Linked DNA regions of Homo sapiens. The protein of the gene in region 2 purifies or fractionates together with the protein of the main gene of each other region. This does not show direct contact. Each region holds a gene or a part of one and is shown on either strand. Other genes may lie near its edges.

Region 1 (3,500 bases), on a different chromosome or scaffold from region 2:
CAATACTCTTAACCAAGACACTTTTCACAACAGTTTGTACATTCCCATTTGTTAACAGAGTATTCATTGTCATTTTAAGATAAAATCAGTATATAAACTGTAATTATAACAAATTATAAAAGCTTAAAAAGTTTCAAAGTATGAAGAAAATCAGCTAAACCAATTAAATTCTCAACATTACTTTAAAAAAAAAGTTACTTACTGGTAACCGGTTGTCTGAATTATCAAAAATAATCTCCACAAAAGCAGAAATAACACGAGGACCAGTACCTTCCTAAAAATGAAAGAAGTGAGAAATTTGCCATTTAAGTTGTATATTCATATCCTTTAAAGGATTCTTAAAGTCTAGGGCATAATAACAAGTCTGATTCAATGGAGAAAAATTTCTGCTAGATTCATATATACACACACACACTAATCTAACGTCTCTGCTCTTTTGGCAAGAGGGATACATACTTTGGGGATATCCCCAGAGTTATAGTATATATCCCTCTTGCCAAAACAGCAGAGACGTTAGATTAGGACAACAAAACTTCTCAACCAAATAGCTTTTGATTCTAAATAAAAAATAAGAGCTATGCAAGACATGTCAAAGTTAGATATCCTTAAATATGATTCTACAGACCACTTTATTAGACTGCAAGACTGGGGACATTTAACTCTACCTATTTGCTAATATCTAATACACCATGAGGCTTTTCTCTTACAGTCTCATTTTAATGCTGCAAAGAAATCCTAATAAATCATGGGATAATTACCAAAAGTCTGTTTTTTAAGAAAAATTGAGACATTCTACAGTTTTAAATCTATTATAGAAATATACACATTTAACATGTGTCACATTTAAACCAATCTATGACACAAAAACTATGGTACCAAGTCCAGATACCTTCCAGATTATAGAAACTATGTAGTAAATACAATGAAGAACTGTACCAAAGAGGTTATTAATTATTTTAATGCCAATCTGAAAAACCTAAAAAGAATTTTTCTAAAGGAAATCAATTCTGATTACTGGGCTACAAATTCAAACTAAACAAGGGGAAAAGACAGACAAGAGCTAAACAAAACAATTTCCTATGTGTGAGAAACACTGTTAAGACATGTTGAGGAATTTCATTTTCTAGTCTTTAATAAACAATATTCAAATCAGAAGGATTAATCGTTTTATTGTAGTCTTTCATGATTTTCTATCCTAAAATTACTTTAGTCCATTACTCATATTTTTTTCCACATCACATTGGTAATGTGCCAATGTCCTAACAAGGTTTGAGGGAGGCATGACTCACATGAACACGAAAACCCAATCATCGTGCTTATGCATTACAAAAGGACCCACTTAATAAAATATCCTAACTCACATTACTGTAAATATACAGGTGGTCCCCAACTTACGATGGTTCAACAAATGGCTGAATGACAACGTGATAGCAGTCTACATTCAGTAGAAACCATAATTTGAGTATCCATAAAATCACTGTTTTTTACTTTCAGCATAGTATTCAATAAATTATATGACAGATTCAACACTTTATTATAAAACAGACTTTTGTGTTAGATCATTTTGCTCAACTGTAGGCTAATGTCCATTTTTGACTTATGGTATTTTCAGTTTATGATAGGTTTATTAGGACATAACCCCGCTGTAAGTTGCAGAACATCTCTACTGTTTTTCATACTGGAAAATGATGTTTACTATCTAAGTACAAATATGGCTAAAACAACAAACAACTTGTATGTTGTTTAGTTTGCAATGGTTGTTTCTCTATGTTCCCAATTAATTTTTGGTTCTGCATCTTAAAGTTCCTAATCTGCAACCTCAAACTCTTCTTTCTCCTCAGCAAACCTGCTTCTTAAGCCTTTGCAGATCACATCCTTAAAGAAATGTACATGGAGGACATACCCACCTATAGGCAAATCCTATAATTTTCTCCTAACCATCACATAAAAATTAGGCCTTTATCTGGCATTAACATGTTAGGCTAAATTTCACAGCAGAATAAAACACTTATGATATATATCATGTCTCCTTTAAGACATTTATATGGAGGACATATCCATCTATAGGCAAATCCTATAATTTTCTCCTAAACCACTGTATAAAAATTGGGCTTTTATCTGGCATTAATATGTTAGGCTAAATTTCACAGCAGAGTAACACACTTATGAGAAAGATTGTGTCTTGTTCACAAAGAATCTGAAACTTGAACAAATGCTTTTTTAACCAGCATGGAAAATTTATTTTTAAAATATATGTAATATCAATAATGTCTTAAAGCAGTCTCACTCACATGCAATAAAGCCAACCGCTGTTCTGGACGAAGATGACTAAACTCATCACTGAGAACAAACTGAATTGCTGGAAATACAAAAACAACTATTAGTATACCCTAAAAAAGTGTTTATAACTTATTTATAACTTCCCACACCTCAATAGAACATAGTGTGTCTGGTAATAGACAATGCAAATAAATTATCTGTTTCATATGGACAAAAGGAAATGCAGAAAATGTGCCTGCACATCAGACTAATCAGGTAGGAAATGATATAAGAAAAATACTGAGAAGTTTTCATTGAAACATTTAAGGTAAGGAAATAAAGAGAAACCACCGAAATACATGAAAACAGACAAGCAAAACTAAGGTATACCTCTGGCTCAAAGTGTTCACTGACTGGATTAGGTTAACACTGTATTTGCTTTTTTCCCCACTAGACATAAATGATATGAGTTAAAATCCTTTTTAACAAAATAGGATGTATTTTGAGAATATGCTTAAGTGGATACTTTACCAAAAGAAATAAAACTAAGGAAATACAGGGAAATGTTTGAGATGCCCAACTTATACTACACTTCTTATACTATACCGAGCTCTGTAAGAAGGGGCCGTTCCTACTTCGGTATAGAGTACCTAACTGGACCACCCTGCCTAGGAAGTGGAACTCTTTACTCAGCTGTTCTTGTCCCAGTCCACCCAAGAGACCTCTGGCACTGTGTGTGTGTGGAGGTGGTGGGGGTGCCCACATCAGCAAGTACGTGCATAAGCATTAATGTGTGTGCTGTGGACACAGGTCGAGGTGAGGAGACTTCACACTGCCCTGGAGATTCTGAAATACTTCCACTTCAGTCCATTCTCTCATCATTGCCAAATTACAACCACAATAGGATATACAGGCTAGAGAGTGCCTTTCAGATTCGTGTGCACAGAAGAGATAGAACCTTTGTTCTTACTAAGCCAGTCCACTAAATGCCCCTTTCCCTCAAGCATTACCCAACTAAAAAGTTCAAATTTTTCAACCTACTCCTTAACTGTCTAATTTTGTTAAAATGTTTTTCTCCTCAAAGGATTTGTTAACAGACGCATTGCTATTTACACTTAAATGCAATTTAGAGAGAATTTTTGAAGCTCTATTTACTATCTTCAAAGTGACAACAGTCTGTTCAGTTTCAAGTTTTTTATACCTCTTCATCCTTTACAAAGATGATTGGTTTAGAAAACGTT
Region 2 (3,500 bases):
CATGTTTGCATGCATGTGCATGTATGTGTGCGCATGTACGTGTCTGTGTGCATGTGCCTGCATGCATGTCTGGGGGTGCGTGTGCATCTGTGTGCGTGCCTGGGTGTGCGTGTGTGCGTGCGTGCGTGCGTGCATGTGTATGTGATGTGTATGTGGTGTGCGTGTGTGTGCGCGCATGTCGGTGTGCGTGTGTGTGCGTGCATGTGTATGTGATGTGTATGTGGTGTGCATCTGTGTCTGCATGTGTCTGTGTAGCATGTCTGTATGTGTATGTGGTGTGCGTGTGCGTGTGTGCGTCTGTGTGTGTGCATGTGTACGTGGCATACGCGTCTGTGCATGTGTGTGCATGTGCGTATATATGTGCAAGTGCGTGTATGTGTGTCTGCGTGTGTGTGGATGTGTAGGTGACGTGCATGTGTCTGTGCGTGTACGTGTCTGTGTGCACGTGCGTGTATGTGTGCGTCTGCGTGCATGTGTGCGTGCGGTGCAGGGAGAGAGGCGGGAGGGGTCGTGAGCGGCGGATGCTGGGGCAGAGAGCAGGACGGCGCCTCCCCCGCGGCGGGCAGCTCACCTGGTGAAGCGGACCTTGCAGATGTTGCACTCGTAGGGCTTCTCGCCCGTGTGGGTGCGGATGTGTCGCGGCAGCTTGCCGGCGCCCTGGATGACCTTCTCGCAGATGGGGCACTTCTGGAAGGCCTTGGCTCGGATCTTCTTCTCCACCTTCTGCGACCAGGCCGGGTAGACGTCGCCGTCGTGGGCGCCGCTGAAGTACTTCAGGTAGTAGTCCATGACGCCCTTGTCGTCGGCCCGCGACTCCTCGTCGCTGTCCCCCGCCGCGGCCCCCGCCCGGCCCACCGATGACATCATCTGCTGCAGCAGCGTGCTGGCCGCCAGCCCGTCCACGTCGGGCCCGTCCCCGTCCTCGCCCTCGGCCGCTCCCGACAGGAAGCCCGGAGAGTCGCCCGGCTCGGGGGCCGCCTCCGACAGCGAGGCGGCCTCCTCCTCTCCGCCGCGGCCGTAGTGGCCGTTCTGCGTGGCGGCCGGCGGGGCCACCGGCGGCGGAAAGAGACCCCCGGTGGGGGCGTCCTCATCCCGCTCTGGCCACAGACCCGGGTTGCTGTCGCCCTCGTCCCCGTCCCCCGTCGGGGGCCGCTCGGCCGGGGGGCCCGGCCCATAGAAGTCTAAGCCGTTGCAGTCGCCCGCGGCCACGGCGGCCACAGCGGCGGCCACGGCCTCCTTGGTGGCATCCAGGTCATCATCGGACGCCCCAAAGGCGGACCACGGGAAGCTGGCAGCGGCGGCGGCGGCCGCGGGGGGCAGGCTGTTCATGGGGTTGCTCTGGAAGAACTCGAGGTACTCCTTGGCGCGGAGGAGGTTGCGCTGATCAATTTGATCTACAAGGTCCAGCTGCCCGGCGTCGGCGCCCGCGTCGGCCGCCAGGATCTGCCGGTCCAGGAGGTCGGCGCACACGTGGCTCACGGCGGGGATCTCCAGCAGGCGGGCGGCGCTGAGGATGTCACCCACGTTGGCTGTGCTGACGGTGAGCGTGGCCGTGTAGGCGAAGTCCATGAGCGCGGTGAGCGCCTCGGCGCTGACGAAGTCGATCTCGTACACGTTCTGCTGGTCCACCACGGCGCCCGACGTGAACAGCTTCTTGAAGTACTGGCTGCAGGCGGCCAGCACCGAGCGGTGCGTGGGGAACTCGCGGCCCTCCACCAGGATCACCACGTCGCACAGCAGGCCCTGCGTCCGCTGCTCGTTCAGCCCACTCAGGATGTCGCTGCTGTGGTCGGGGAACGGGATCCCGATGGGGCCGTCCACGCCGCCGGCCATCTTCCGCGCCGAGACCTGCAGCAGTGGGGAAGGAGAGGGCGCTCGTGAGTGGGGGTGCGGGGGTTCCTGTGCCCACTGACAAGGGCCCGAGGCCCTTGAGAAGCAGCGTTCCACCCTGCTCCCCCAGCCTCACATTCCCACCTGCACGTGAAGGCGGTCAGATGTCGCGCCTTTCCAGCCCCAGCTTCCCCAGCTGTGCACCAAAGCGATACATGCCCTGCCTCCAGCCTCTTTTCTTTTTTGTGTGTCTTTAATACAGAGACAGGCTATCACCATGTTGGCCAGGCTGGTCTCAAACCCCTGGCCTCGGCCTGGCGCGGTGGCTCACGCCTGTAATCCCAGCACTTTGGGAGGCCGAGACAGGCAGATCATGAGGTCAGGGGATGGAGACCATCCTGGCTAACACAGTGAAACCCCGTCTCTACTAAAAAATACAAAAAATTAGCCGGGCGTGTTGGCGGGGGCCTGTAGTTCCAGCTACTCGGGAGGCTGAGGCAGGAGAATGGCATGAACCCAGGAGGCAGAGCTTGCAGTGAGCTGAGATCACGCCACTGCACTCCAGCCTGGGCAACAGAGCAAGACTCCATCTCAAAAAAACAAAACAAATCAAAAAACCCTGGCCTCAAATGATCCAACCGCCCCTGCCTCCCAAGGTGCTAAGATTACAGGCATGAACCACGGCACCCGGCCAAGACTGTTTTCCATCTGTGCATGAGGATAGCCAGATGTCCCGGCTCCCCAGCCTCAGTTTCCCCAGCTGTTCCCAAGTGCAGTCAAATGTCCTATCCTCTAGCCTCAGTTTCCCCAGCTGTGCATGAGAATGGTCAGATGTCCTGCCTCCCCCAGCCTGTTTCCCCAGCTGTACACAAAAGCAATCAGACGTCATGTCCCCAGCCTCAGTTTCCCCAGCTGTACAGGAAGGCAATCAGGTGTCCCACTCCCAACCTGTTTCCCATCTGTACACAAGGGCGGCCAGCTGTCCTGCCCCCAGCCTCAATTTCCCCAGCTGTGCATGAGGACAGTCAGGTTTCCTGCCCCCCATCAGCCTCAGTTTCCCTAGCTGTGCCCAAGAGCAGTCAGATGCCCTGTTCTGTCTCATCAGCGTGAGATGAGGCTGGCAAAACCCACACTGGACGCTTAAATTTCACAAGCACACTGGCACCACCCCTCCGAGGAGGGCCCCCGGGAATGCCTGTTGAAAGGGCACTTTGAGGCCCGGCTCGGTGCTCACGCCTGTAATTCTAGCATTTTGGGGAGGCTGAGGTGGGCAGATCACTTGAGGTCAGGAGTTCAAGACCAGCGACCAGCCTGGCCAACATGGTGAAACCCTGTCTCTACTAAAAATACAAAAATTAGGCTGGGTGTGGTGGCTCACACCTGTAATCCCAGCACTTTGGGAGGCCGAGGCGGGCAGATCACCAGGTCAGGAGATCGAGACCATCCTGGCTGACACAGTGAAACTCTGTCTCTACTAAAAATACAAAAATAGATGGGCGTGATGGCACGTGCCTGTAATCCCAGCTACTCGGGAGGCTGAGGCGGGAGAATCGCTTGAACCTGGGGGGTGGAGGTTGCAGTGAGCCGAGATTGCACCACTGCACTCCTGCCTGGGCCACAGAGCGAGACTCCGTCTTAAAAAAAAAAATCAGCCAGGCGTGGTGGCGCGT

The links. Proteins that work in one complex are often made in the same cells at the same time.
Region 1: the proteins of ZBTB7A (region 2) and SMC3 purify together in Homo sapiens (affinity purification with mass spectrometry, with the first as the bait; one large-scale study listed by BioGRID). This does not show direct contact.

Annotation. Positions count from the first base shown.
Region 1 is NC_000010.11:110,574,195-110,577,694, reverse strand, and holds part of SMC3 (structural maintenance of chromosomes protein 3), read right to left. Parts: intron 2,360-3,500; coding exon 2,292-2,359; intron 1,336-2,291; exon of another isoform or gene 1,234-1,335; intron 275-1,233; coding exon 203-274; intron 1-202. UniProt on the Homo sapiens protein: Central component of cohesin, a complex required for chromosome cohesion during the cell cycle. The cohesin complex may form a large proteinaceous ring within which sister chromatids can be trapped.
Region 2 is NC_000019.10:4,053,400-4,056,899, forward strand, and holds part of ZBTB7A (zinc finger and BTB domain-containing protein 7A), read right to left. Parts: intron 2,123-3,500; exon of another isoform or gene 2,110-2,122; coding exon of another isoform or gene 1,975-2,109; intron 1,849-1,974; coding exon of another isoform or gene 1,834-1,848; coding exon 572-1,833; intron 1-571. UniProt on the Homo sapiens protein: Transcription factor that represses the transcription of a wide range of genes involved in cell proliferation and differentiation.